Linked DNA regions of Homo sapiens: all the other regions are reported to be linked to region 6. The links are microRNA targets in miRTarBase. Many come from high-throughput screens and were not tested one by one. Region 6 holds a microRNA gene; each other region holds the end of a gene's coding sequence. Distances are from middle to middle.
Evidence for each region. Region 6 holds the annotated microRNA hsa-miR-218-5p (UUGUGCUUGAUCUAACCAUGU, at 1,961-1,981, shown strand). A microRNA usually pairs through its seed, bases 2 to 8, with sites in the 3' UTR of a target mRNA and lowers its output. Matches are read on the target gene's strand: a 7mer-m8 pairs with bases 2 to 8, a 7mer-A1 pairs with bases 2 to 7 and ends in A, and an 8mer does both.

Region 1: miRTarBase lists DKK2 as a target of hsa-miR-218-5p. Seed matches in the 3' UTR shown: 7mer-m8 at 1,132-1,138 and 7mer-A1 at 2,451-2,457.
Region 2: miRTarBase lists CNDP2 as a target of hsa-miR-218-5p. Seed matches in the 3' UTR shown: 8mer at 587-594, 7mer-A1 at 3,295-3,301 and 7mer-A1 at 3,543-3,549.
Region 3: miRTarBase lists C11orf54 as a target of hsa-miR-218-5p. Seed matches in the 3' UTR shown: 7mer-m8 at 4,213-4,219.
Region 4: the mRNA of ZFX is a reported target of hsa-miR-218-5p. Seed matches in the 3' UTR shown: 8mer at 1,735-1,742.
Region 5: miRTarBase lists NHP2 as a target of hsa-miR-218-5p. The part of its 3' UTR that is shown has no 7-base or 8-base seed match.

The regions. Positions count from the first base shown.
Region 1 is chr4:106,919,742-106,924,817 of GRCh38, reverse strand. It overlaps DKK2 (dickkopf Wnt signaling pathway inhibitor 2), which reads left to right. Exons shown (of 4, transcript NM_014421.3): 3 at 118-273; 4 at 614-3,016. The coding sequence ends at 864. Among named protein-coding and RNA genes, the nearest start is that of DKK2, 110 kb to the left of the region's middle.
Region 2 is chr18:74,519,756-74,524,823 of GRCh38, forward strand. It overlaps CNDP2 (carnosine dipeptidase 2), which reads left to right. Exons shown (of 12, transcript NM_018235.3): 12 at 244-3,699. The coding sequence ends at 313. Among named protein-coding and RNA genes, the nearest start is that of CNDP1, 12 kb to the right of the region's middle.
Region 3 is chr11:93,760,987-93,766,062 of GRCh38, reverse strand. It overlaps C11orf54 (chromosome 11 open reading frame 54), which reads right to left. Exons shown (of 9, transcript NM_001286069.2): 9 at 1,314-4,548. The coding sequence ends at 4,375. Among named protein-coding and RNA genes, the nearest start is that of MED17, 21 kb to the left of the region's middle.
Region 4 is chrX:24,210,668-24,215,743 of GRCh38, reverse strand. It overlaps ZFX (zinc finger protein X-linked), which reads right to left. Exons shown (of 10, transcript NM_003410.4): 10 at 1-5,076. The coding sequence ends at 4,368. Among named protein-coding and RNA genes, the nearest start is that of ZFX, 63 kb to the right of the region's middle.
Region 5 is chr5:178,145,468-178,150,543 of GRCh38, forward strand. NHP2 (NHP2 ribonucleoprotein) reads right to left here. Exons shown (of 4, transcript NM_017838.4): 4 at 3,996-4,371. The coding sequence ends at 4,246. It overlaps RMND5B (required for meiotic nuclear division 5 homolog B), which reads left to right. Exons shown (of 11, transcript NM_022762.5): 8 at 647-812; 9 at 2,066-2,168; 10 at 2,262-2,416; 11 at 2,502-5,076. The coding sequence ends at 2,565. Among named protein-coding and RNA genes, the nearest start is that of NHP2, 5.9 kb to the right of the region's middle. RefSeq lists enhancers at 581-875, 970-1,079, 1,200-1,249.
Region 6 is chr4:20,526,339-20,531,414 of GRCh38, forward strand. It overlaps MIR218-1 (microRNA 218-1), which reads left to right and starts at 1,937; the gene lies at 1,937-2,046. SLIT2 (slit guidance ligand 2) reads left to right here. Exons shown (of 37, transcript NM_004787.4): 16 at 2,611-2,761.

The DNA of each region.
Region 1 (5,076 bases), 86 Mb from region 6:
GATAGATAGATACACAGATAGATAAATGGCTTCATATTTCACATCAAGAGAGTATGTGGATAAGTATCACATTTCATAGAATTGAATTAGTCTAACTGATTATATGATCATCTCCAGGCATCTGTATCCCAGTTACTGAAAGCATCTTAACCCCTCACATCCCGGCTCTGGATGGTACTCGGCACAGAGATCGAAACCACGGTCATTACTCAAACCATGACTTGGGATGGCAGAATCTAGGAAGACCACACACTAAGATGTCACATATAAAAGGTAGGGATATCTGTAGTTCTGGGGTTTTTTTAAAATAAAGAAATAGAAGAAAAATATAGATAATTAATTCCATTGGTTTTAGAAAAAATTACAAGGAAGTTTCTTTAATCCTAGCTAGTCATTAAACTTGTTATTTAGGTGGCAAATAATGGAAACAGACCATAATAGATTTATGTGATAAGAGGCAGAGCCAATTGGTATCAACCAAGACTTTTCATTATAAATGGTAACAACATAGAAGATAGTATAAGTAAAAATATTTTATGTGCTTCTGATTGCAAAATAGAATTTTTTTTTTCTGAAGTGTCAGGGTAACATCTATTGGTCATCATCTCTGCAGGGCATGAAGGAGACCCCTGCCTACGATCATCAGACTGCATTGAAGGGTTTTGCTGTGCTCGTCATTTCTGGACCAAAATCTGCAAACCAGTGCTCCATCAGGGGGAAGTCTGTACCAAACAACGCAAGAAGGGTTCTCATGGGCTGGAAATTTTCCAGCGTTGCGACTGTGCGAAGGGCCTGTCTTGCAAAGTATGGAAAGATGCCACCTACTCCTCCAAAGCCAGACTCCATGTGTGTCAGAAAATTTGATCACCATTGAGGAACATCATCAATTGCAGACTGTGAAGTTGTGTATTTAATGCATTATAGCATGGTGGAAAATAAGGTTCAGATGCAGAAGAATGGCTAAAATAAGAAACGTGATAAGAATATAGATGATCACAAAAAGGGAGAAAGAAAACATGAACTGAATAGATTAGAATGGGTGACAAATGCAGTGCAGCCAGTGTTTCCATTATGCAACTTGTCTATGTAAATAATGTACACATTTGTGGAAAATGCTATTATTAAGAGAACAAGCACACAGTGGAAATTACTGATGAGTAGCATGTGACTTTCCAAGAGTTTAGGTTGTGCTGGAGGAGAGGTTTCCTTCAGATTGCTGATTGCTTATACAAATAACCTACATGCCAGATTTCTATTCAACGTTAGAGTTTAACAAAATACTCCTAGAATAACTTGTTATACAATAGGTTCTAAAAATAAAATTGCTAAACAAGAAATGAAAACATGGAGCATTGTTAATTTACAACAGAAAATTACCTTTTGATTTGTAACACTACTTCTGCTGTTCAATCAAGAGTCTTGGTAGATAAGAAAAAAATCAGTCAATATTTCCAAATAATTGCAAAATAATGGCCAGTTGTTTAGGAAGGCCTTTAGGAAGACAAATAAATAACAAACAAACAGCCACAAATACTTTTTTTTCAAAATTTTAGTTTTACCTGTAATTAATAAGAACTGATACAAGACAAAAACAGTTCCTTCAGATTCTACGGAATGACAGTATATCTCTCTTTATCCTATGTGATTCCTGCTCTGAATGCATTATATTTTCCAAACTATACCCATAAATTGTGACTAGTAAAATACTTACACAGAGCAGAATTTTCACAGATGGCAAAAAAATTTAAAGATGTCCAATATATGTGGGAAAAGAGCTAACAGAGAGATCATTATTTCTTAAAGATTGGCCATAACCTGTATTTTGATAGAATTAGATTGGTAAATACATGTATTCATACATACTCTGTGGTAATAGAGACTTGAGCTGGATCTGTACTGCACTGGAGTAAGCAAGAAAATTGGGAAAACTTTTTCGTTTGTTCAGGTTTTGGCAACACATAGATCATATGTCTGAGGCACAAGTTGGCTGTTCATCTTTGAAACCAGGGGATGCACAGTCTAAATGAATATCTGCATGGGATTTGCTATCATAATATTTACTATGCAGATGAATTCAGTGTGAGGTCCTGTGTCCGTACTATCCTCAAATTATTTATTTTATAGTGCTGAGATCCTCAAATAATCTCAATTTCAGGAGGTTTCACAAAATGGACTCCTGAAGTAGACAGAGTAGTGAGGTTTCATTGCCCTCTATAAGCTTCTGACTAGCCAATGGCATCATCCAATTTTCTTCCCAAACCTCTGCAGCATCTGCTTTATTGCCAAAGGGCTAGTTTCGGTTTTCTGCAGCCATTGCGGTTAAAAAATATAAGTAGGATAACTTGTAAAACCTGCATATTGCTAATCTATAGACACCACAGTTTCTAAATTCTTTGAAACCACTTTACTACTTTTTTTAAACTTAACTCAGTTCTAAATACTTTGTCTGGAGCACAAAACAATAAAAGGTTATCTTATAGTCGTGACTTTAAACTTTTGTAGACCACAATTCACTTTTTAGTTTTCTTTTACTTAAATCCCATCTGCAGTCTCAAATTTAAGTTCTCCCAGTAGAGATTGAGTTTGAGCCTGTATATCTATTAAAAATTTCAACTTCCCACATATATTTACTAAGATGATTAAGACTTACATTTTCTGCACAGGTCTGCAAAAACAAAAATTATAAACTAGTCCATCCAAGAACCAAAGTTTGTATAAACAGGTTGCTATAAGCTTGGTGAAATGAAAATGGAACATTTCAATCAAACATTTCCTATATAACAATTATTATATTTACAATTTGGTTTCTGCAATATTTTTCTTATGTCCACCCTTTTAAAAATTATTATTTGAAGTAATTTATTTACAGGAAATGTTAATGAGATGTATTTTCTTATAGAGATATTTCTTACAGAAAGCTTTGTAGCAGAATATATTTGCAGCTATTGACTTTGTAATTTAGGAAAAATGTATAATAAGATAAAATCTATTAAATTTTTCTCCTCTAAAAACTGAATTCAAAGCTCCTTGTCTTTTGTCTACGGGAAGAATTTTCATAGAATCATACTTTCTGAGAGTTCAACTGGACTTGGTCTGATTTTGAGGACTGGGTGTGAATCATTTGGAGGACATCAGCATGAGATAACTCAGAGCAGTTTACTATTACAAAAGGTAGTTTATTTCTTGGCAGTTTAGCTGTAATTGTTAGAAAGTTGTTTCTGTTTTTTTTTTTTTTTCCAAACCAAAATATTCCAGCTTGTGATTTACACCCATTTAGTCATATTTTGCCTTCCAGAACAACTTGGAACGAGAATATGCTCTTCACAAATTCTTCAAAATACTTTAAGACAGGTAACATATACCCCATAATCTTCTCTCTAGGCTAAAGTTTTCCAAAATGGAAATACTATTATGCTTAGAGTATTGGTTCATTTCTACATGAACCAATGAACGTGAGCTACACGATACCTTTTTCTGTGTTTGGAGAGAAACTGAGTGAAATCAAATCCACTTCCTGGGAAGCAAGTCTTTCCTCTGCTTCCTGAACCAGAGATGTCAGGAGTGTTTTGAGGAATAGTGTTCACCAAGTATGAGCAGGGATGCTACAAGAGCCCATGTTTTATTAGACATCAGAATGGGCTGCATATGTGGATAATAAACATTCTGTGACATAGTGAATGAATTAAATGTAGCTATGGCTGCTTCATGAAGCTAAAACAGTCCCACAGCTAGAAGTTAGAGTTAAAAATACCTTAAGCATTGCTGAAATACTTTCCACCATATGTTAATTAGTCATTTAAGGATATTCTTAAATCATTGGCCATTTCCTCAAATTGAGAATATTTATATTTTCTAGTTAAAGTGTGCTTTTGACTATAACAATCATATAGGCGATCTTTTTCTTTTCTATTGTGCTCAGTGAGATGCTCTGAGAAGTGACAAATTGTCCTGACATTTTTTTTTTTTTAGTTAAGAAATAAAATACCCTTAAGTAGCCTTAGTATTTTAGGGGAAAACATTCAGTTACACTTTTGTAAATGTAATTGTAGCCTTAGGATTTTAGGGAAAAACGTTCAATTATAATTGTCTTCACTCAAAATCAGGCCAGTTGAAAAACAGATTTTTTTAAAAAATGGGCAAATGAAAGATTACTCTATTGCTGGTGAAGCTGATATTGAAAAATGTAGCATATACCTGTGAGCAAGAAGACATTCTAACACTAAACACCAGAAATAGATTCTGTGCCCATTCACATTCAACACCAGACTATATCAGTTCCATCTTATGGGAGCTGCCCTGTAAAATTTATAATATGGATGGGCAGAACAGAATGACAGGCCTCCTTCTGGCAGTTAACACCGAAGATGAAGTGGGTGGAAAGTGGGCTGAACTATGCATTTCTCATTCAAAAATCTCATCCAAAATTTTCCAAAGCTGGACAATTTGTACTACATGAAAGGAGTGAGTGAGGGGTGGAGTGAGACAAAGATGATCATTCCATGCCACATCGAACTCACTTTAAAGATTGAGAAAGAAGAAGCCCTCCTCATATCCTTCCCCAGATATTTTTAACCCATTGTGCATACCATTTGTCTATGGTGAAGATATGAGTTTTAGCCAAAATCTGACCTGCTACCTCCTAGGGGAAGTGCCTGATGAAGTCTTTTTTCCTAATGACATCCATTTCTTCTTTATGGATCCTCTCAGGATGTGGTGTGGTGGGAAATTTAGCTGTTGTCCCCAGGAGCTAGCAAAATGTATGAAAATAATACATTAATTAAATAAACTTCAAGACCACTCTATATCCAGGACTAGAAAATAATTCTCTATTCTTTTAACTGCCCCAAATTATATCCATCATGTCATCTAACACAGTCTATTAGGGATTTTGCAGTGAGACTAAATGATGCATTGAGTATATGATAATAAAATATGTGAAAGCATTTCATTAATAAAATTCTAACAATGCAGAGATGCCCCACCTTTGAATATAAATCTTCTTCCATTGAAAATTTCTTAGGGAGAAAGTAAAGGACAAAAATTAAATCCTCTTGCATGTTAAAGTCAAAATAACTT
Region 2 (5,068 bases), not on the chromosome of region 6:
CGTTTACTACCGGGGCACTAGGGGACCAGGATTGGTCTCTGGGCTGGGCAGTCAGACTGAAGCTGCACTTGAGAACCGGGGTGCTGAATTCTGAAGGCAAGCAGGGCTCAGGGCCCCCAAGCTGGGATGGGGGATGCTCCCCAGGAAGAAGGCAGAGTGTGTCTGGGCTCGGGAGGAGTCACCCCACACCTGGGTGTTGGCTCACGACACCAGCCAACACAATGATGTGTTCCTCTCTACCAGGTATAACTACATAGAGGGAACCAAGATGCTGGCCGCGTACCTGTATGAGGTCTCCCAGCTGAAGGACTAGGCCAAGCCCTCTGTGTGCCATCTCCAATGAGAAGGAATCCTGCCCTCACCTCACCCTTTTCCAACTTGCCCAGGGAAGTGGAGGTTCCCTCTTTCCTTTCCCTCTTGTCAGGTCATCCATGACTTTAGAGAACAGACACAAGTGTATCCAGCTGTCCACGGGTGGAGCTACCCGTTGGGCTTATGAGTGACCTGGAGTGACAGCTGAGTCACCCTGGGTAAGTTCTCAGAGTGGTCAGGATGGCTTGACCTGCAGAAGATACCCAAGGTCCAAAAGCACAAGGTCTGCGGAAAGTTCTGGTTGTCGGCCGGGCACCACGGCTCACACCTATAATCGAGCACTTTGGGAGGCCAAGACAGGAGGATCACTTGAGGCCAGGAGTCTGAGACAAGCCTAGGCAACAAAACAAGACTCTGTCTCTACAAAAAGTTTAAGAAATGAGCCAGACATGGTGGTGTATGCCTGTAGTCCCAGCCACTCAGAAGGCTGAGGCAGGAGGATCGCTTGAGACCAAGAGTTTGAGCCTGCGGTGAGCTGTGAATGCACCACGGCACTCAAGCCTGGGCAATGTAGCAAGATCCTGTCTCTACAAGAAATTTTTTAAAAATGAGCCAAGTGTGGTGGTGCATGCCTGTAGTTCCAGCTACTCAGGACACTGACGTAGGAGGGTTGCTTGAGACTGAGAGTTGGAGGCTGCGATGAGCCATGAATGCCCCACTGCACTCCAGCCTGGGCGACAGAACGAGACCCCATCTCAAAAAAAATAAGTTCTGGTTGTCATTGAATTGGGATAAACAGAGAGCTTGATGCTTTCTGCCTTCTGTCTCAGGTGATGCATTGCACATTTGGGATATTTGGAAAGGAAATGAGGAAAGAAATTAGGGCCTCCTCTGATCTCTCGCTATCTGCGGGTCCTGTCCTTTTCTCAAGACCTTCACCATTACTGGCATTTTCCTGTCTTCTCTTTAGTATGATCCCTCAAAACCTCACTAACTGGAAGGATGATTTTGTCTCAGTTTGTACTCCTAAATAAAAAGTAAACATGACACCTCTAAAAGAATCGCTCCATCTCAGTTGCTCGTCGCGTGCACACCATGCTTATTGAGTGGTGTCTGGTTGGTGGTGTCAGCTCAGGGCAGGGGACAGCAGGCAGGACCCGGAAAACAGAACCCAGGTCTTCCCAGGCGAGCACTCCCTCCCTCGTCCACACAAGTGGAGGCTCACTCGTGGCCCCCTGCATGTTCCGAGAAGTGTCCCTGTCTCTGCTCCTTAACGGCTGTGGGGCCACAGGAAGTCCAGCTGGCTTAAACAAAGAATTGATTGGCCCACTTGACATAAAAGAACAGAGTAAACTCAATGAAAGGAAAAGGCTCCTTGAAGTGGTTGGTTCCAGGGCTGGGCAGGGAAGATGCAAGATGAGTCTGGACCCTCTCACATCGGAACGTAAGGATGCGCTCCTGAGGGCGTGGGGCTGCGTCCAAGGACACAGGAGCCAGCCTGGAAGAGTTTGCAGGGGCCCAGGGGAGCAATTGGAGTGAGAAAATAGCAGTAGTGTTGGATTTTTACCATGGAATAAACAACAATCCATGAGTCCATACTAATATAAATAAAGTGACAAAGTGGGTGAGAAGGACCAGTGCCCCTGGATGAAGAATCTCTGCTCATGTGGGAGGAAGGTGGGAGATCAAAGCTGGAGCACTTGCTGCTGCAGGTGAGACCCCTGACACACTCTCAAATTGGTAGGCAAAGGTTTAAAGAACGGGATATTTGCTTAGCTTAAAAGCACCTCCCAAGGGGAAAACAGTAACTTCACAGTGGAGAGACCTGGCAGGCACCACCCTCAGATCAAAATGAACCTCAGCAGTAATGACACGTCCACATCAGCACCCCCAACACCACTCCCTGAGGAGGACATGCCAGTTCTGGGAACATCACACTCATCGTGACAAAACATCAGACAAACCCAAACGGATGAAATGTGAGGAAAATCTGTAGTTGGTTTTACGTGGATGTTAATCTCTTAGTTTTGATCATTGTGCTGTAGCTGCATAAGAGGTTAGCTGGGTGAAGTGTATCTGGGGACCCTCTATGGCTTTTGCATCTTTTCTCTAAGTCTCCTGTCATTTCAAAGTAAAAACAAAAAAAGAAGACAAGGGTAGCGGCTTCAGGTACAGCTGGACCCAGCACTCAGTGCTATCTGGGCTTGTGGCTCCAACTCAACTCCTCCATCAGAACTGTGAGAAATGCATTCTTTCAGCTTCTAATCCTGCAAAAAGAACTGCATGGTCTTCCCCCAGAAATCCTAAGAGTAGCTGCTGGTGTCTCATGCATGCGAGCTGCATATGGGCCCCCGTTAGTCAGGAACCCATGCTGAGAGGTGCTATGCTTTGAATGTTTGGCTCCTCCCAAACTCGTGTTGAAACTTAATAGCCATTGTAACAGTATTAAGAGGCAGGGCCTTCAAGAGCTGGTCAGGCCATGAGGGCCCTGTCCTCCTGACTGAGTGAATGCTGTTATTGTAGGAGTGGGCTTGTTTGGCCTCCTCTTGCTCTCTCTACCCCTCTCTGAGCCCTTGTGTTGTGGGATGACACAGCCAGAAGGCCCTTGCCAGGTTCCGGTCCCTCCACCTTGGACCTCCCAGCCTCCCGAACGTTGAGCCAATACATCTCTGCTCATTGTAAATTACCTAGTCTTGGGCATTGTGTTACAGCAGCAAAAAGCAGCCTACGGCAGTCACCGTGCTAACACCTGCAGCAGCCTGCGGCGGTCACCGTGCTAACACGTGCAGCAGCCTGTGTGGCTCAGGCCAGTCAGCTTCCCCTGGAAGCAAGTGTGAGGTCGTCGCCTCTGGAAGTGCTAGCGGAGGGTGATCTCCCGGAGGAAATCAGAGTGGTGTTCTACTAGAAGGCCGATGACTCCTGGGTAAAGTGCCAATGCTCACCTCCATCTCTGCAAGCTCAGTCCCTCGTGGAATTTCCAGGAGCACAAGGGCAATCTCGACAGCTCCACGTTCCCAGTGCCCGACCCAAGCCTGGCCCATGATCAGATAAATGCCTAAGTGGGGTGGCATGGACATTTGCACACGTCCAGACTGCTTTATGTTAGAAGCTGAGCTGGCATGCCACTAGCTGGTTTTGATGTAAACAACAATTTTGTAAAACCCTGGACTGAATGGGTCTGACTAACGGCTGGTTCTGTGAACTTGAGCCTCAGCGTCCTGTGTCAGAAGAGCACAAACCACTTTCCCAGAGAGGTTATGAAGACAGAAATGACCCTGTGACCCCTTTGCAAAGTATGAAGAACGGTTCCCACTCATGCATGGAGCTGGATCTTCTCAAGTGGGAAACAGGCGTGGTAAATAAATACTGTTGTTTCAGCTGGTGTAATATGGGACCAGTTTTTTTTAAAGCAAGTCTAAAGTTTTTTTCAGACTACTACAATATGGTACATGATAGGAATATTGAAATTTATTAAAAACAAAAGACTTTCTCTGAATGTCACTTCTAATTTTTATTCAAAAAGCAGATATATCTTAGGTCCTTTAGAGAAAGGTGTTTCATACATCAAGAGGCATTGAAAACTGCAGTCACTTGGCCCTTTAAACATTATATTATCAAACTCTTTTATTTACTGAAAAGACAACATCCTTTGAAAAGTGTCCATGAATCCAACGGTGGTCTGGAGATTCACATACAAATTATTTGAATATTTCTAGAAGGGCAACAATAGATTTATGTCCACACTATCTACTGGCCTAACAGTTGCAAGAAATTGTATTAAATGGAAAAATGTGAGAAAGTAAATATCTGCTGCCTGACATTGAAGAGGAAAATTGCTACTGTGTCACCCAAGTAAGGAGCTGCCAATTTTATGGATCATTTCCCTTTGAAAAATGATTGACAGTACCTTTAGGGGGAGTTAGAGTTCTTCCCAAAGGATTCGTTCATTACTATTTATAGAATTCATGTTACAAAGGGCTTTAAAGATGTTTGTCTAATGTTTCATTGCATCCCGGTGAAATAGGAGGTTTTTTCCCTGTGCTATAGAGGGGACAGGCCTGAGAGACCTTGTGATGGCCTGCCATCACTCAGCTCCTGGGAGGCAGCCTTGGGACCCAGGCCTTCCCCTCTTCCCCTCCCCTCGCTGGGGGACACTCATGCCCTCCCCTCCATGGCAGGAGGCCAGTTGTTCCTGGTGTGCACTTGGCCTCCCGCCTTTCCCACTGAGGTCTCAGCATTTCTCCTTTCGGTTTCCCCCATGGTGATTTATTGTTGACAGCTTTGGTAAGTTACAATTCATAGACCAAACAATCCGCCTGTTTAGTGTGAACAATTCAGTGGCTTCTCGTATAGTCACAGAGTTGCACAACCATCACCAGTTGATTTCAGGACATTTTCATTGCCTCCAAAAGAAACCCAGTACCTGTAACCTATCACCTCCCCCACACAATCACCCTATCTCCCTCAGGCCCAAGCATCCACTAATCTACTTTCTGTCTCTACTGACTTTCTTTTCTCTTTTTTTTTTTTTTTGAGATGGAGTCTGGCTCTGTCACCCAGGCTGGCATGCAATGGTGCGATTTCGGCTCACTGCTGCAACTTCTGCCTTCCGGGTTCAAACGATTATCCTGCGTCAGCCTTCTGAGTAGCTGGGATTATAGGCGCACGCCACCACGCCCGGCTAATTTTTGTGTTTTTTAGTAGAGATGGGGTTTCACCATGTTGGTCACACTGGTCTCGAACTCCCAACCTCAGG
Region 3 (5,076 bases), not on the chromosome of region 6:
GAGATGGGGTCTCACTATGTTGCCCAGGCTGGTCTCAAACTCCTGGGCTCAAGCAATCCTCCCACCTCAGCCTTCCAAAATGCTGGGATTACAGGCATGAGCCATTGCACCTGGTTGGATGACAATTCTTTAGGTTTATCTGTGTTCTTATTTTAGGTTTGGAAAGATGGTATGACACTGTGATGTATAATAAGATATGCAGTATGTATAGATAGTCTTAGTCCCAGTATTCTGGCACACAGCTCCTAAAACCCTGGGAATCTCCAAAGTGATAAATGGTTTTTTGTATGCTAATGAAATGACAGTGATAAGTGGGTTTCTGCATGCCAGAAGCTCCTGGATAGCTTCAAGATAGGGGCTCCTTGCCCAGGAACTAACCACGTGATTAAAGAATTCCGGCTTTCAGCCCCAACACCAACCTTGAAGGAGAGGAAAGGCTGAAGGTTGAACTTATCACCAGTGACCAATAATTTAATCAATTCTGCCTACATAAGGAAGCCTCTATAAAATCCCAAAAGAAAGGCAGAGGCGGGTGGATCACTTGAGCCCAGGAGTTCAAGACAAGCCCGGGTAACATGATGAGACCCCGTCTCTACGAAAAATACAAAAATTGGCTGGGCGTCATGGCGCACACCTGTTAGTCCCAGTTACTCAGGAGGCGGAGAGGGGAGGATTGCGTGAGCCTGGGAGGCAGAGGTTTCAGTGAGCAGAGATCATGCCACTGCACTCCAGCCTGGGTGACAGAGTGAGAACCTGTCTCAAAAACAAAAACAAAGCCAAAGTCCAAAAGAAAAGGGTTTGGATAGCTTCCAAATTGCTGAACAGGTGGACATGCCTAGAAGGTGGGGCACCCAGAAACGGTGTGGAAGCTCTGGACTTCTGCTGGCCTTTCCATATGCATCTCTTCCATCTGGCTGTTCATCTGTATACTTTATTATATCCTTTATTAATAAACTGGAAAATATAAGTAAAGTGTTTCCCTGGGTTCAGTGATCTGCTCTAAGCAAATTAATCAAACCTGAAGAGGTAGGCATAGAGACCCCGATTTACAGTGGGTTGGTCAAAAGTACAGGTCACAACCTGAAGCTTGTGATTGGCATCGGAAGTGGGAGGCAGTCTTGGAGGATTGAACCATTAAACTGTGGGATCTGACGCTATCTCCAAGTAAATAGTGTTAGAATTGAATTAAATTATAGGACCCCCAGCTGATGTCTGCTGGAGAATTGCTTGGTGTGTGGGAAAAACCCCCATGCATCTGGTCACAGAAGCTTTCTGTGTTATACTGAGTGAATGTAAGAGTAAGAAGAGCACTTTGGGTGAGGTGCAGTGCCTCATGCCTGTAATCCCAGCAATTTGAGAGGCTGAGACGGGCAGATCACTTGAGGCCAGGAGTTCGAGAACAGCCTGGCCAACACGGCGAAACTCTGTCTCTATAAAGAAAGAAAACTAAGAAAAAATTTAAAAAGAAAAGCATTTTGATCTTTTCCCCCATCTCTATTAGATGGTGTGAATGTACCTGGTCTCCAAGCTTTTTGAATTGTGTCTATCAGCAATACAATTTTGAACTGAAATCCCTAACGTAAGAAATGTACACAAAACCACAGAAACTTAAAAGGACGAAATAAAATATATAAATAGATGTTCTAATATTCCCACACCCCTTGGAAGGTCATGTGTACCTGCTGTCCATGCACCCCATTTTGGAGGACACTAATGGAAGAGTAAAGGCAGTGTTGGTATCTGTAGTGTGAAGAGGCCCAGGACTGCTTCAGATGATCTCTACACCTGGAATCTGACCTGAAATAAGCTCTGATCTGAAATCAGATCTGAAATCTGTAATTAAGAATCTGACTTAATTTATGTTTGACTGCTGGTGGCTTTTAAGCCTTATCCCACCCCTCGTCCCCTTATGCCCTACACCTCTGGCAAGCTAAGAAAGCCTGGGTGCTCGCCAGACATGGTGGCCCATGCCTGTAATCCCAGCACTTTGGGAGGCCGAGGCAGGAAGATGACTTGAGCCCAGCCTGGGCAACATAGTGAGACACCATCTCTTTAAAAAAATAAAGCAAGCAAGCCTGGGTGTTTCCTTCTTTGATACCAGTGGGAAATTCAAACCACATGCAAGAAACATCACTCTGGCCCTACTCCCTAACCACCAAAAAACTCCAAGTCAGTCTCCTTCCCTGTTGTCAAATCCTGCTTAGGAGCTGCCCTGCTTTCCCCAGAAAGCTTCATTATGTGAGTAACAACCCTTTCATACTCTGTTGGTGTGTGTGTGGCTTCATCAGTCATTTTTTTTTTCTTTTTGAGACAGGGTCTCACTGTGTTGCCCAGGCTACAGTGCAATGAAACAATCATAGCTCACTGTAGCCTCCAACTTCTGGGCTCAAGTGATTCTCGTGCCTCAGCCTCCTGAGCAGCTGGGACAACAGGTGTGCACAACCATGCCCAGATAATTAAAAAATTTTTTTTCTTTTTTTGCAGAGATGGGGGTCTCTCTCTGTTGCCCAGGCTGGCCTTGAACTCCTGGCCTCAAGTGATCCTCCTGCCTTGGTCTCCCTAAGTACTAGGATTACAGGCGTGAGCCACTGAACTTGGCTATCAGTCTGGACATGTGAACCAAATTTTGAGTGTGGAATGCATCCTGTCTCAGTGCGGGATGGCCACAAAAAAATAGCATCCTCCTTTACAGTCCATCTACTCCTTTCTTTTCATAGCATTTAATACCACCTGACATATTATATATTTATTGTTTGTCTTCCCCACTAGACAGATCCCCAGCTTTAGTAAAGTGTTTGGTATAATCATCCGAGTGGCTACTTTGCTAGCAGTTAAAGGCACTAGTGCTACAGTCGTGAACAAGGCCCTTGCCCACATGAAGTGTACACTCCAGAGAGAAGGGTAGGTGTTCAATACATATTTGTTAAATGATAGACTATTAATATTATTTTGTCTGGAGGTAAGATATTACAAACATATCATAAATTAAATTTTTTATTCATTTTTTTGCATCAAAATAGTGCTTAAAATTGGAATTTATACTCACAAGACATAGCTAACATCCAAAGTAGACAATTAAAAAATATTATTTGAAAATTATGTACTTAGTACTGAAGACTTCCTAAATTTGCACATTAGCTAGATTGCCATTAGCACCATTAGAGAGTTGATCTTTGGCTAATGATTATTCAGGAAAATTTCAACCATTACAATCAGTGAGTATAATTTTATATTTCAGCAACGATAGTGGTCATGTTCAGCAACAGCTTCACTTACAAATTAAAGTAAGCTCACTTCAGTGTTGCACTCTGATGCTGTTTTTTTACCCCTTCTCTTGCAAATAACCAGTGAAATAAAAATTGCTTCTAACTGGCAATCGAAACAAGGGAGGAATTATGGCTAGCCAACTAGTTGCTAATGTTTGTGTTTTTTTTATTTAAGAAACATTTTAAATAATAGAGATGGGGTCTCACCATGGTGCCCAGGCTGGTTTAAACTCCTAGGCTCAGGCAATCCTCCCACTCGGCCTCCCAACATGCTGGGATCACAGGCTTCAGCCACCATGCCCGGACTGCTAATGTTTGTGAAAGGCAAATTGTAAACTTCTATGGTTTAACTTCACCAGAAGGGTAAAGGGCTCCCCACCTGCCACCTTGTTCTATAAAAAAAGTATACTCTGATTACTAGAATGGATTTTTAAAATTCAATTCAAAGATTCAATAACTATCAACATTTCTAAACACTGATTTTTCTTTTTCTCTTTTTCAAATGTTTTTTAATATCCTGCAGGTAATAACACTGATTTTTCTAATACTCAGAAACATCTACTTAGCAGTTGTGATACTAATTTGCAAAATGTAATAATGTTATACAAATATAAGATACTACTAAATACATAGTAGAAATAATTGCATGATTCCTGATATTTATATTCAAGGTATAAACATGACTGATTTCGCTGATACTACAGAATAAAAAAAATAAAGCTGCTATGTAAAAAATTAAAGAATATCTCAATTAGATATTTTTGTTCCCAATCTCTTTCAGACAGATCTATGAAATAATATAGAATATACTATCAATATGTTCTTTCATATGAAGTGAAAAAAATGGGATTTAAGTAGTGAGATAATTTCTATTTTTTACTTTTTTAAAAAAATAGACAGGGTCTTGCTATGTTGCCCAAGCTGGTCTCAAACTCCTGGGCTCCAGTGTGCTTCCTGCCTCAGCCTCCCAAAGTGCTGGGATTATAGGCATGAGCCATTGTGCCTGGCCTGTGGGATCATTTCTATTGGTTTTATATCAGTATTAATTAATAAGTCAATCAATTAATTAACCTTAATTATTTCTTTTTCTAAATAAGTATCAGCTGATTTAATCTCGCCCAATTGAATGCGTCTCTTTTGGTTGATCAATGCGATAGAGAAACTCTGCAGGTAAGAAGTATCCAAGATATTCCACTATATCTGGAGTAGTGTCATAATGGTAGTGTCCACCTTCTCCATGACGACTAAAAAAATGAGTGTGCTCCAGTCGCAAATCAAACCCCTAAGATAACAGACAAACAATATGTTAGTACTCAAATTATTGATTAGAGTTTAAGGGGGAGGGATAACTTTTTACGTTGCAATAGTTTTTATTTTTTAAATAGGTAATACATTCACATGTTCTAAATTCAAAGGGGGCAAAACGATGTATTCAGTAAAATGTATCTTCTTCTCTCTTGCCCTCACCACTCACTCCCCTTCCTAGCAGGTAACCAGTGTAAGCATTTTCTTGTATATCCTTCCATAAATACTTACTTTTATTTTTACTCAAATGTAGTATTTTGTACACACTTTTCTGCATGTAACTTTTTTTCATGTAACAATATAGTTTTGAGATCTTTGTATATGAAATCATAAAAGAGCTTCCTCATTCTTTTATACCTGCATGGTATTCTATTGCGTATGTAACTTCTCAACTGACACTTGCATTATTTCTAATTCTTTTGCTACTACAACAATACTGTAATAATAACCTTTTAACTAGTAATTTTACACAATTATGCATATATTTAAGTATAATATCCTAGGC
Region 4 (5,076 bases), not on the chromosome of region 6:
CAGGCTATTTACATGTGCGCTAAAGGCATACTTGTTGACTTGGCAGGCTCACACTTTTAAAACAGCAAATGGAAGGTATAAACTGTCTGGGGTCCTATTTTTCTCTCACTGTTCATTTCTGATTTTTTGTGATAATTTCTTTCTTATCTACCACACAAAATGCTGAACCAGTCATCTTTTAGGTTCCTCAAGTGCTCTAAAAGTGTTTCCCAAGTTTGAACAGGCATCAGAATCACTTGGAGAACATGTTAAAACAAAGACTGCTGGGTCCCACGCCAGTTTCCCAATTCAGTAGGACTAGGGTGGGGCTGAGAATTTGCATTTTTAACAAAGTCCCAGGAGATTAAGATGCTGCCAATGCTGTCCGGCCATACTTTGAAAACCACTGCTCTGAAAGATTGCCCCTTTAAGATATTGATTAGCCATGTTTTTCCTTACATGAATGCTAGAATTTGTGGGAAATGAAATTATTAATACTGAGATTCCCAGAGAATACAAATACAGCAGCATGTTATCGGACTTGTTGGATCACAGACAGGTTAGGTGTCATTTGTTGGGTGTTCCATTACAAAAGTTTTTCAGCATGCTATGTATGGTTTTGTCTGATTTATGGCTCTGGACAGTGACATTCACCACATTCCCTTCGTCATTTACCTAAAATTTTAATTTATTGTTTCAACTATTAGGCAAACGTTTGTTCATACAGTTGGAAGAACTGCAGAATCTTGTCTATAAAATCAAAGATGGCACAACTCTATCTCTTTTGACTCCTGACATTTACTTAACTGCCGATTTTTAACTGTGGCAATGACCATTCCCTAGTATGTTAGCATCTACTAGTCCTCTAAACTGGGCGCAGTGGGGTAACTCGAGGGCATGATTTCTGTTGTGGAGGTGGTAACAGTCCCCACTGATTAAATATGCTGTAAATTAATACTGAAATGAACTTTAAGTGCTCTCAAAAACCACTTTATGCATGAGTAATTTATCTCAGGGGAATTGGAGATGCTAATAAAACAAATCCTTTATGAAGATAAAAGAAAAAATGAATTCCAAGGACATGCTCATCAAAGGACTCACCAATCACCTCTTAACTTCTCTGAAATATTACTTGCAAATTCACAGAACTGAAATATTACCAGTATTTGCATCCGAGTCACAAAATTCAAAGCAATCAAGCACTTTGCATTCCACTGCTGTGAAAAAGAAATTAAGAAATGGGGGGATGAAAATAATCCACTGCTTTTGATGTTTATTAGGTTTACAAAAACTGTACATTTTTTTTCCTTGAGAAAAAGCATTAACTTAGTACTGGTATCAAATAGACTAAACATTCAATAACAGGAAAATATTCTGATTTTTATTTTTGCACGTTATTCTCAAGTACACAATTACAATAATGTCACACATCCCTATATGATTTTCTTTTTATGTATTTTACTTTCTTTACAAAGTGTACAGAGGGAGGGACATACAATATTTAATAGGATATTTCTACAGAACAATAACTTATATTATGTCCTTGTAAAAATCTGTACCTCTTTAAAACATTTAACTGAAACATCCATTTTTTTTTAGCTTTGCTAATCAAAATTGTTTTAAGAATTAAAACTAGGTTGTAACTAATGTCAGTACATAACAGTGACTACAATTTCATTTTCTCTTTATACAGACAAGTATGTTTTATCATATTCACTTGACCAAACCCTTAAATACCTTTTAAAGGTTTTAATGTTGTGCTTTAAAAAGAACTGTGTATGATTCCGGAGTATGTAAGAGAAATATAAAATGTGTGAAGTGTTGTGTTCTTTATCTTTCAGTTTATTTAAAAAAATATAGTTAAATGACCCAATCATTTATATTTTCTGTATTAATTTTATAGGATTTAAAATTAATACATTTCCACTTTCATTTAAGTGTTTTTACATTATTTCTGGGAAAATAAAAATTAAGGGAGATTTTAAAGGTTCTCACAAAAAAACAGACAGAGCTTTCAAGAATCGCAGGGCAATGAATCACGGATCACAAAATTGTAAGTTAGTTTAAAAAAAAAAAAAAAAAAAAAACACATTATGGGGGCCAAGAAGGTACAGGAATTTCCTATAAGATAGGCTAGGAAAACCCATGCCTTGACTTTGACTGGCATTTGGGCTGGAGTTCACACCTGCCTAAAGCACTTGGTTTAAAACTAGACTAAATCAGTCTAGCACTTCAGAGGTTTGCCAAACACCAAATATTTTGATTTCTAACCCTAAAAATATAACTCTTGAATACAAACATCAATGGCAAAGAGAAAGATGAAAGGTAAAAACCTAAGCACACAGGGGATGGAGCACCATAATGAGGTGACAAGGCAGCTATCGGGTGGGAAGACAATTTCTAAATCTCCTACAATGTGCTAGATGCATACGGACCAATAGCCAACTGAAGGGACCCCAAAAACTGTTTTCTGTTCTCCCAGATTCGTCTTAACATAACCAAGTTCTAATTAACCGAGTTTGTTTTATGAATGTATGACACTGATTCAGACCTATGTGGTGTCTGGGCACGGTGGCTCACGCCTGTAAACCCAGCACTATGGAAGGCCGAGGCAGGTGGATCACGAGGTCAGGGTTCAAGACCAGCCTGGCCAAGATGGTGAAACCCCATCTCTATTAAAAATACAAAAAATTAGCCGGGCGTGGTGGTGGGCGCCTGTAATCCCAGCTACTCGAGAGGCTGAGGCAGATAATTGCTTGAACCCAGGAAGCAGAGGTTGCAGTGAGCTGCAGAGGTTGCAGTGATCACACCACTGCAGTCCAGCCTGGGCAACAGAGCAAGACTCCGTCTTAAGAAAAAAAAACAACAAAAAAAAACAAACAAACAAAAAACCTGTGGAAGACTTAGTGATGTTCCAAATAAGGCCTCAGACTTTCCTTATCCACTTAAAACACATCTTTACCTTTTAATCAAAGCCAACTTGAGTGTTAAGTTTTTAAAGTTTGCTAACTGTAACTGAGAAATAACAGATCAGCCTGAACTTGCCGAGTGTGAAGTCATAATTAGCACCCGTTCTCTGGTCCACAGAGCCATCACTTCTTTTCCATCCCCCTCACTAGGTAAGACAGAGTTCCCTCTCAGGCTTCTCAAAGAGAACTGTGGGAGTCATGTCTGGATACTCATTTGCTTTTCAGAAAAACATAAAGACATGGAGGTGAAATTGTATGAAAACATTCTACCTAGAAACATCTTAACCTCTATGTTTCAATTACCAAAGATATTTAAAAGAAAATATCTTTACTCTTTAAAAATACTAGTGTCCTTATTTTCCTTCTAATTCTTCACCTGAGTAGTCTCTCTGAAGAGCATGACTTACAAAATGCTCTCTCATGCATCCCTGGATCTTTCATGTTATTGTAAATTTAATACTTTTCATTATAGATTTTAAACAACTACTACTTGGGGTTGTGTGTATAAATATGTAAAATAAGCAATACACACAGGTACATGATATATATGTGTATATATATAATTCAGGGTACATTTACATACATAAAGTTGCAAAAGATCCTATAAGCCATGAGTTACCTCTAGGAGATTCCAAAATGCAGTCCTCAGTAAGTGTCATTTGTAGCACACAACCATTCCAAGATGAAGCCGCACAGACAGAATAATCAAAATACAACATGAGCAAGCACAGTTTTTCAATAAGGTTTTCTAAAAGTTTGCTACGCTGACAAAAGATGTAAATAATCCAAAGAAAGCCAAAAGAAGTATATTTGAAAAGTAAACACGAACCCAGCCACTGCTCTTTACTCAGCAAAGCCAGGGACGCAACAGCTCAAATGGAAACTTTCACTGTCAAGTGGTCTGAAAATATTAAGCAAGACAAGTAAATGACTTCCATGTTATGATAATTAGACCTGACTGTAAAATCTCCCATTTATATTAGTAGATGTCTCTGACAATTTTATTGTGAGAAATGTATGGGGAAAAAAATGAGTCAACATGAATACTTTCAGAGTTACCAATATAAAGTTACCTTAAGTTAATGGTCTTAGAAGAGTACCATCAAGGTAAGCAAGGTAAATATTTAAATAAATATAAAATTCTAAGATATAAAACTTCGGTATAGAATCAGGGATTACTTTATTAAAAGTAACTAGCATGTTGCCAGTTTTCCCTATTTATTAAACAAACTGAATAGAATTCAGAACACACTACTGAGCAAAATGTATATTTAAAAAAAAGTCAACTAGAAGTAATAATTCTATTTGTACACAGCATAAATCAATATACAGTATTGTATGTGAATGAGACTGATTGGCTTTAAAATGAATTTTCTGCTTCAAGGCCAATATCTCTACAAACGTTCTGTAGAAGTATTGTTAGGGCAGGCCAACTTCTTTATGATGTCGCATTATGTGCTGGTTCTTTTCTGAAGGTCTTCGGAAGCCTTTCTTGCAGTACTCACACCGGTGAGGATAGTCTTTCGTGTGAATGGAAATAACGTGCCGTTTAAAGCCTGAGGCATCTGTAGTGCTATACTCACAGTACTCACACTGATACACTTTCCTGCCACTGTGTGTCTTCATATGCTTTTTAAGCTCACTCTGTTGCCTAAATCCCTTTCTACATCTCTTGCACCTAAATGGAAGATCCTTTGTGTGAACTGAGAGAATATGGCGACTTAGAACAAATGGATCTGCAATCTTAAAGTCACAATGTCTACACTGGTGCATTTTTTTGCCCTTGTGGGCAGCCACGTGTTTCTTGAGTTCTGAAGGCCTGTGAAAGCCTTTATCACACATGTCACACTTATGGGGGTAGTCTTTCGTGTGAACTGAAATTATGTGTCGTTTCAAATCACTTGAGTTCGAACTCTTGTGGTCGCAATGCAAACACTGGTGTGTTTTGCTTTCTTGGTGGATAAGAGCATGTTGCTGCACCTCTTTGGTATCCGAGAAAGTCAGAAGACAAATGTCACACTTGAATGGCATCTCTTTACTATGCTTAGTTTTGACATGCGTTTTCAAGTTAGAAGAGTCTGCAGACCTATATTCGCAGTACTGGCATTGGTACGGCTTCTCCCCAGTA
Region 5 (5,076 bases), not on the chromosome of region 6:
TGGCGACAGAGCGAGACTCTGTCTCAAAAAAAAAAAAAAACACACAAAAAACACACACACCAAAAAAAACAAGTGCCTGACACCACAACCACGTCTGGCTAACTTTATATATTTTTTATTAGAGACGGGGTTTCACCATGTTGGCCAGGCTGGCCTCAAACTCCTGGCCTCATGTGATGCACCCACCTTGGCCTCCCAAAGTGCTGGGATTATAGGCATGAGCCACCACGCCCGGCCCCAAAACATGACTGAAGTTTTAGCTAGATACTGCTGCCTGTTGAAAGCTCTTAACCTGGGGTTGCTCTAAATGGAGATTAGTGTGGAGACACCAGTGCCAACCTGAGGACTTATTTGATCCTTGATGCAGTGGGGGAGGAAAGAGAACTGGAAAAGAACTGTCCTCATTCCTGATTCTGTGTTAGTAATGCCTGTTCTCATCCTGCAGAAGCAGCCTGGACCTCCACCTCCCCAGTGGATTTTACAGTCAAATTTGCCTGAGGGCATTTTCATCCCTGCTCAGTCTCCTCAGGGGCTTGGGAGCCACCGGGCTCAGCATATTGTGCTGTGCTGCACAGTCCTGCTGCCCGCTTGGGGGTGGACCCAGAGCCCTGCACCCCCTGAGCTGCCCCCTCTGGTTGCCTTGTAGAGATCCAGGTGATGATGGGCAGCCTGGTGTACCTGCGGCTGGGCTTGGAGAAGTCACCCTACTGCCACCTGCTGGACAGCAGCCACTGGGCAGAGATCTGTGAGACCTTTACCCGGGACGCCTGTTCCCTGCTGGGGCTTTCTGTGGAGTCCCCCCTTAGCGTCAGGTACAACCCAGCCCTGTGAGGGCAGCACAGGTGGGAGGGTAGAGAGGTAATCATCATTTGCCAAGGCCCTGCCATGTGCCAGGAACAGTGCTCGGTGCTTTCAGAGACCGAAACTGGCTTTCTTAGTCATTCTTCAGGAGAGGAATTACCTGTTTTTACAGTTAAACTGAGACTAGGAAGAGTTATGGCCCGAGGTCACCATGAGGTCAGTGGCATGGTCAAGGTTCCCATTTTGTAAGGTCTCCTGAATGAGGTCCCTGCCTCTCTTGCACCTCACCCTGGATCATTGCAAGACCTTCCCAGCTAACCCACGCCCCTCTGCAGCCCGCCTTCCTCATGACCTAATGTCTTAAACACCACTTGCCTTCAGGGGAGATGTGAGTGGTTGAGTAATATGTATTCAGCACTGCTGCTGACACCTCCCTCAGAGCTCCCAGCAACCCTGGGAGGGAGAGCCACGTTATCCTCCTTCTACAGATGAGGAAATGGAGGCCCAAGATGTGCACGCACTTGCCCAAGGCCTCGCAGGGAATAATGGGCACTTGAACCTGACCCCAGAGCCACACACTCCGCCACAGTGGACAGCTGTCACTGTGTATTTAGACTGTTGATGGTGTCTGAGTACAGCACCTCAATATAGTGGACTGATTCTACGCTCATCTGATTTGTTACCATGGACTCAGTTTATAGAACGTCATTTCCCAGCAAGAACAACATCAGCACCTTAGGATGATTCTGTTGCGCAGGACTACCCTGTGCACTGTGGGGTATTCAGCACCTGAGGTTCCAGCCAGTAGGCTCCCTTCCCCATGCAACTGTCACGAGAAGGGAACCCCAACCTCCATTTGTTAGGCGGCCTAGTTGATAGCCACCATTATAAAGATGTGTTATGACTACACAGCAGGGTACGTCCTACAGGCAGGCTGGGGCCCTTTGGAACTGCTCACTGTTCCCTAGTCACACCAAGGACTTTTCAGTCATTAGGATGAGCAGATATCTGCCCCTAGAGCTATAGGAAGTCTTCCCTGTAGGTTCTCAAATTTTGGGGTGCATTAGAATGAGTCTGTAGAGTCAGACATACATAAGTACATATGTGACATCTTATGAACAATGTGAGGGATCTTTGAGGACCGATTTGACCGTGCACCATTTTAGAGCCCTGTCTCAAGGTCCATGCTGAAGCATGGCGCGCTGGCCCTTTTTGCCTGTCTGCTGTGATCTGAGCCACTCTAGCCCCTGTTCCTTGTCTGCAGCTTTGCCTCTGGCTGTGTGGCGCTGCCTGTGTTGATGAACATCAAGGCTGTGATTGAGCAGCGGCAGTGCACTGGGGTCTGGAATCACAAGGACGAGTTACCGGTGAGGCCTGGTCTGGGGAATCGTGGGCAAGAGGTACTGGGGAGGACAGCCATGACAGGAAGTGGAACTCACCCGCTTCGCTGCCCTTCCCAGATTGAGATTGAACTAGGCATGAAGTGCTGGTACCACTCCGTGTTCGCTTGCCCCATCCTCCGCCAGCAGACGTCAGATTCCAACCCTCCCATCAAGCTCATCTGTGGCCATGTTATCTCCCGAGATGCACTCAATAAGCTCATTAATGGAGGAAAGTAAGTTCCCCGTGCTCTACTCCACCTTGGCTTGGCTCTCCTACTGGCCACCCCTGAGACGTTCTCGGTTCTCCTCCCTTTGCAGGCTGAAGTGTCCCTACTGTCCCATGGAGCAGAACCCGGCAGATGGGAAACGCATCATATTCTGATTCCTACCTGGAAGGAATTTTGTTGAAAGGGGTTTTCACCTGTGAGCCTTGGTCTGTCTCGGTAGGGTGGTCAACTTCAGTGGACTGTGGTTGGTTTCAGAGCGCCTGGCTGAGGAGTTCCACTGAGGGGAGCACTGGAGCAGCCCTTTGGCAGAGGCTGAGGAGGGAGATGGACCAGCCCACGCCTGGCACCTGGCTCCATGGCATAAGGAAAGGGAGATGCTGGCCTCTGTGCTCCTGCTGTCTTTTCCTGTTTCTGTTTGCGTTTGACTTAGTAGCAACCGACAGAGTGGCAAGGGATTTGGTCTTCAGCAGTAGACATCCTTCCACCCCTGCCCTCAGCCAAGTCTCTTGCTGCCATGCCAATGCTATGTCCACCCTTGCCCCTCGGCCCAAGAGTGTCCAGCGGTGGCCCACCTCTTCCTCCCACTACAGCCTCAACAGTATGTACCATCTCCCACTGTAAATAGTCCCAGTTAGAACGGAATGCCGTTGTTTTATAACTTTGAACAAATGTATTTACTGCCCTTCTCATTTCTCCTGGCCAACCTTTAGCCTCACTGACAAATTATGACCACATGTCTACCACACACAGGGACTGGGCACGGCCTGGTGGCTGCCGCAAACAAAAACATGGCCAGCAGGTATCCAGTGTCCAGGCAGGAAGAACACAACTTGCATCCCTGACTGCGGGGAGCTTAGATGTCAGACCCCGGGCAAGGTGCTTTTACATATACCCATACCAGATCTTACTAACTCCATAGGAGAAATCCGTGTAATGGGATTCAGGAAAATGAAGTAACTTGCACAACAGGGCTCACAGCTTAGAAAGGAGAGAGCTTGGAGTTTTAACCAGATCTGACCCTCAAGCCCAAGCTATTTCCAGTTTATTCCAGGGTGCCTGAACTTGGCTGTTATGTATACTGAGTCCTGTGCAGGGCCTCTGACAGCAGGAAGGGGCCCCAAGTCTAAAATACTTGAAGGGATTGGGTTACTAGGGCCATTATGTTAAGCAAGAGAGCTCGGGGGAATGCATTTTAGCTTCATATTCCTATTTAAAATGTGCTGTGTGGGTGGGTAAATTGCTTCCATAAGCTTCACAGTGGCATTTAAGGCTCCTGGGTTAAGTTAGGAATGGGGGTGTTCCTGATGTGGGGGCTTTAGGCTTCCATGAAGTGGGTCTGGGCCCCCTGCCTTACCTCACAGCCCCCATCTACCCTGGAAGAGGGAGTTGAAAATGCTGGGATAGCAGCAGGATCAGTTCTCAGCTTGAGCCAAAGCACCCGGCCCTGGGCAGCTGAGCATCAGCACAGAACCCTCTGAGTCCTTTGGGCTCTCTGCTGAGGAAGACTGCTTCACTCTTCCCGCCCACCAACTCGCTGGCCCAACCAGCAGCTGCTGCTTAAGAAAACACCCACAGACTCACCACATTTTAGTCTTAGCATTTACTTTCCCCACCCCACATTCTTGGAACAGCCTTTAGTTCTACAGGAAATGGCACTGATGGACAGAAGACTAGCATTACCTTCATGAAAGGGCTGTTAGAGCTGCCTGGGAAGAAGGCGTGCCTTGGGGAACTGGGAAGATGCCGTCAGTGTGGGTGGGCAGGAGGACAGCCAGTCGTCCTGCTGCCAGCCCAATAGCTTCCAGCGGCAGGTGCCCAGGTGCTACCGGAGCCCCTCATAGGGGTAGGGGCAGGGACTGCACCTCCTCCAGGCACTCATCGTAAGCCTCCTGGTACTCCTCATGGGGCTTGACCATTATCACACAGGTGGGGCGCTTGGAGCCTGCGGCTGCACCCAGGTCCTACAGAGGGGAAAGAAGTGCTGTTTGGAAAAAAGCTGTACAACCTGTATGCCAGGAAGTCACCAACTGATGACCCACCAGCCTAATCTGGCCCACAACCATGTTCTGTTCGGTCCATGTTCTATTTAAAAGCATCTTGAATTGGTTGCCATCATTTAAACTCAATCAGACTTTGAAGGCATGGTCCAGCCACACAGGGCCTACATTCCCACATGGCAACTATGAAAGGGCTCCAGCCCAGCAGGGGCTGTCCCGGTCCCTGCCACCCCCACTTCCTGTGCCTCAGATCTGGCCCCTGTTACGTAAGATAAGGACAGCTACAGGTCCCTCTGAGCCTAAACCCACCTAACCGGACTAACATGGGTGAAGCATCTTAGCTTACAAAGCTCTTTCACATACATCTATCTCTTTATTCTCATAGTCCACAGATAACTGACTATTTGGTTCTTACCATCAGGCCAAACGGTAAGTTCCTTCAGAACAGGGCCTCCTGCTTTATCCCAAGAAGTGATACTGTAGGTACCCAAGATCCACCCCCAGCCTCTATTTTTTTTTTTTGAGACAGGGCCTCACTCTGTCATGCAGTCTGGAGTGTGGTGGTGTATGATCATGGCTCACTGCAGCCTTGAACTCCTGGGTTCAAGTGATCTCCTGCTTTAGCCTCCCAAGTGGCTGGGACTACAGGCATGTGCCACCACACCCAGC
Region 6 (5,076 bases):
ACATGTTGAAAAGAACAGTTGATTGGCCTTCATTGACAATGTTTAATATTAATTACTTTACCCAATTAAGTGGAAAGTAATCTGATAGCTATTATTTAACCAGAAAAAGCCATATTCTAAACACCAGACTACCTATAGAATAAAACATTAATATGATTTAAATCCTAAAATTATGGCAGTAATGTAATTGGTATCAAATTATTCAAACTATTTCATTTAAATATACTTAATTAATAATTGGTAAGTTTAATATTTCCAATTCACTAAATAAAGAACAAAAGTCAGGTTGTTTTCATATATTCTGATATAGTTTTTCCCTGTTACTGACAGCAGCCAAAATAGGATTTGGAAATTATCTTTTATATCAAATATCATGTCTTAAGTTTCAATTTATGATAATTTAATTTACATTCTTTAAACATGATAATTGTAGAAGCCAGGACTCAAAAGGATCATTTGGGCTTCCTCCCCTTTTTTCCAAAAATTTTAATTAAAATTTGAGTCCACCTAACAAGCCACCATAAAATAAGCATTATTACTGTTCCGTTGAATGCAGATTATTTGAATTGCAAGATATCCAGTGTACCTGTCACTTAGACTTTGTGCACTCTTATTTCATTTTGGAGTGAAGCATAAATCATAAGACACCAGATCCTCAGTAAATATCATGGCATTAACTGCCAAATGTAATGAAACGATTATATTTACCATCGCAAACTTCTTATGAGATTCTGATTCCATTTCCACTAAGACACATTATTTATAAGTTGAAAAGTTCATTAAAAAGTGTACATCACAACATAAGGATTAATCCAAATGTTGTAATGATTGTCCTTGAGGATCTCCATGATTAGTTTTTCATTCACTTTTACGTGTGTACCTCGCTACTACCATTTTATATGGCACTCTACATATTACAGTGATAAAAGAAAATCTGTCTTGCAGAGAGTTCATCTTTTTTTTTTTGGAGATGGAGTCTCGCTGTCTCCCAGGCTGGAGTGCAGTGGCATGATCTCGGCTCACTGCAAGTTCCGCCTCCCGAGTTCATGCCATTCTCCTGCCTCAGCCTCACCGAGTAGCTGGGACTACAGGCGCCCGCAACCATGCCCAGCTAATTTTTTGTATTTTTACTGGAGATGGGTTTTCACCCGTCAGGTGAAATGGTCTTGACTTCCTGACCTTGTGATCCGCCCGCCTTGGCCTCCCGAAGTGCTAGTATTACAGGCGTGAGCCACCACACCCGGCCTTGAGAGTTCATCTTTTAAAGGAATCAAGAACTTAATTTGCACTATGCATCTTTTATTACATTGGTTTTCTTGTGAGACCACCGTGCTTCAAAATATTATTTATAAAATTTTACAAAGCATGACAATTCCCATCACATCATGCTATTTTTTCAATAATTCCCATAATAAAGAAAGAAGGAAGAGAGCTTAGTTTTATAAATATGTATATTAATCTTAATTGGGATTACTCTTTCTTTCCTTCTTGGTGATCTTTACTTTTGCAGGAATTCACCATTTTGGCTGTAAGTAAAAGTGTCTGATCTGAAACATAATACCCTCCCTTTTCAATCCTGATGTACCTTCTTCTAGTCTTGGTCTTTGGCACCTTTTTTTCAAGAAGAAACCACAGATCTTTTGAGCTTCTCTGTTGTCCTTGTAGCTCACCTTCAACTTCTTCCTGGATGTTGTTCCCGAAAGCTGTTGTTTCCATTCTGCAGTTCTGAGGAATGGTGGAGGCACCTTTTCCATATAGCCCCTTCTTTGTGTTTCCAGGAAATCATCGGTAGTAATACTCTTACTGTGGTCATAAACATTCTGCGGGAAGAATGCATGTCATGTAAACAGTATTACGTTTCCAGAACGTCTGTAGCTTTTCTCCTCCTTCCCTCCATTTTCCTCTTGGTCTTACCTTTGGCCTAGTGGTTGGTGTAGTGATAATGTAGCGAGATTTTCTGTTGTGCTTGATCTAACCATGTGGTTGCGAGGTATGAGTAAAACATGGTTCCGTCAAGCACCATGGAACGTCACGCAGCTTTCTACAGCATGACAAGCTGCTGAGGCTTAAATCAGGATTTTCCTGTCTCTTTCTACAAAATCAAAATGAAAAAAGAGGGCTTTTTAGGCATCTCCGAGATTATGTGAGAGGGAGAGAATAGTAAAAAGTCCATAGAAAATTTAAAAGCCTGAGTATATCTATTTGCCTTGAAAGCCCTAATTTACAATGAGATATAGGATCATGTTTATTACTGGATATATTTTCAATTCTTGACTCCGAGAAAAAAAATAAACTTTTTAATAATTAATATCCATTGTGTGACTAGCTGTGAAGTAGGCTAGAATGACTCAGAATTGGATCAGCAGAAAGTACAGCTGTGAAAAGCTCAACTTTATTAATGTTTTCCTGTCATGTGAATCTGGTCACTCTTTTTTCCAGAAAATTCCAAGCCTTTCTTTTAACCTTTCTCCTGACATCCATTGACCAAAATACCCCAAGTTGTCTCCCTGCTACATAATCTATAGTTATCTTACTTTTTTCTTCCTACAAACTAATAAATTTTCTAACCTTTAGACTCAGTATCTTTTTTTTGGTTTGAATTCTCAATAGGTACAGAAGATTATCGATCAAAATTAAGTGGAGACTGCTTTGCGGATCTGGCTTGCCCTGAAAAGTGTCGCTGTGAAGGAACCACAGTAGATTGCTCTAATCAAAAGCTCAACAAAATCCCGGAGCACATTCCCCAGTACACTGCAGAGTTGTAAGTTCATCCCCCAACAAAATTCTGGTTGGGATGGAGGGAATGAAAGCATTAAAGCATAAGAATGTTTGTCTTGCCATTTTTATTATTAATAATTGCATTAATTTTAATTAATATGCATTACATTGGCATAACTCTATTTTGTACAAGAATATATTAGAGGCTACCTTCATTCATCTTTCTAGCCAACCATACGATTAAGTACAGAAACTAATTTATCTCTCAAAATTCAGTAAGCACTTCATACTAATAACAATGGTATTTATTTGATGCTTATTTATTGGGTATTATTTATTCCCAATTTGTTTTCTAAGTACTTAGTTTTTAACGTATTTAATTCTTATAGCAACTAAATAAAGTAGTTTGAGAGCCTCCATTTTCAATCTCTGTAAACTATCAATAGATTCAAGGAGTCTGTCTTACCTAATTTACTACTTCATTGACTTACGGGCAGAAGGATTCAGTGGTTATCAAGTATTAAAGTAGAAAGGATAGCTTTTTCTGAACAATGCAAGAAAAGCTGAAAAGGCAGAATATGATGGTATTTACACTTAACAGCCTTAACATAGGACCTTGCACATACTAAGTGCTAAGGTGTTTGTTGGAGCACTTACAGATTCTATGCCCATGCATGGTTTGCCTTTACTGACTTTATTTATAAGAAGAGGACCTTTAATGTTAGTGTTCTAACAATTCAGGGAAAAAACTAGCAAAACCTCATCATTCTCTAAACATCTTAGCCATGTTTATATATAGCACCATCTGGTATTTGTCATTTACTGCTTTGCAAAGTTCGTTGTCTGTTTGTTTGTATATAATCCTTCCATCTTTAACTAGATTATAGCTCCTTGATGACAGGGATTGTGTGTTATTGTTTATCTCTCACTGTGCCTATACTCATGCCTGTACTTAATTAATTTTTAGCAATTTGAATAACTAAAAATAAAGTAATGCCTTTCAAAGAGTTGACAGAAACCCACTATCTTGTAGTTATAGTGATTTTTTTTTTTTTACTCCTATTAGTTGATGAAGCTATTTCACAGCTCCAGGAATTTTAGAAATGCATGGAGTCCATGCAACCAAGGCCCTGAACTTTATTTTTTATAGACATATAGGGATTTATGCTTATTACCTATAATACTACAAACAAGTGATACCTTCCAGCACAATAGTACTTTTTTTTTTTTTGAGACAGAGTCTCACTATCTCACCCAGGCAGGAGTGCAGTGGCACAATCACAGCTCCCTGTAGCCTTGGCCTCCTGGGCGCAAGGGATCCTCCCACCTCAGTCCCCCACCCCCATCTCCCCAAGAAGCTGGGACCTCAGGCATGCACCACCACACCCAGCTAATTTTGTACTTTTTGTAGAGATGGGATTTTGCCCTGTTGTCCAGGCTGGTCTTGAACTCCTGAGCTCAAGCAATCCTCCTGCCTCTGCCTCTCAAAGTGCCAGGGTTACAGGCATGAGACACTGCCCCTGGCCTAGCACTTTAAATAAGTTTGTTTGTCATGGAGGAATTATAGTGGAAACTAGCCTCCAATTTAGACTTCAGCAAATGTGTGTAATGTAAGAGATTTATAATTTTTTTAATTATATAATAAAATCAGTACTGAGAATAAAATATTTGCAAGTCATGTATCTAATAAGGCACATAATTCAGAATATATACAGAACTCTTATAATTTAGATTAAAAGGTATTTTACTCAGCTAATGAATGGTTAAATTATTCATATTGACCTTTCTCCAAAGAACATATACAAATGTCCAATAAACACATGAAAAACTGCTCAATATCATTAGTTATTAGGGACATTCCAATCAAAACCACAATGAGATACCATTTTAGACCCACTGGAATGGCTAAAAAAAAAAAACAAAAACAAAAAGGGAGAGTAACATAGTGGAAGAAATTGAAACCCTCATACATTGCTGGTCTGAATGTAAAGCTTCTATGGAAATCTTTTTTGCTATTTCTCAAAGAGTTAATCACGATTTACCATGTGATCCAGCAATGCCCCTCCTATGTATATGTCCAAAAAACGACAACATATATCCAGGCAGAAACGTGCACACCATGTTCATAGCAGCATTATTTATAGCCATCAAAGAATGGAAGCAACACAAATGCCTCCTAACTGATAAATGGATAAACAAATGTGTCATGCCTGTGTAATGAAATATCATTCAGTCTTAAAAAATAATGAAGCACTGCCATATGCTACAACAGGAATAAGACATTACACAAAGCAAAAGAAGCCAGACAGAAAAGGCTACATCTTACATGATTCCGTTTATGCAAAATGCCCAGACTAG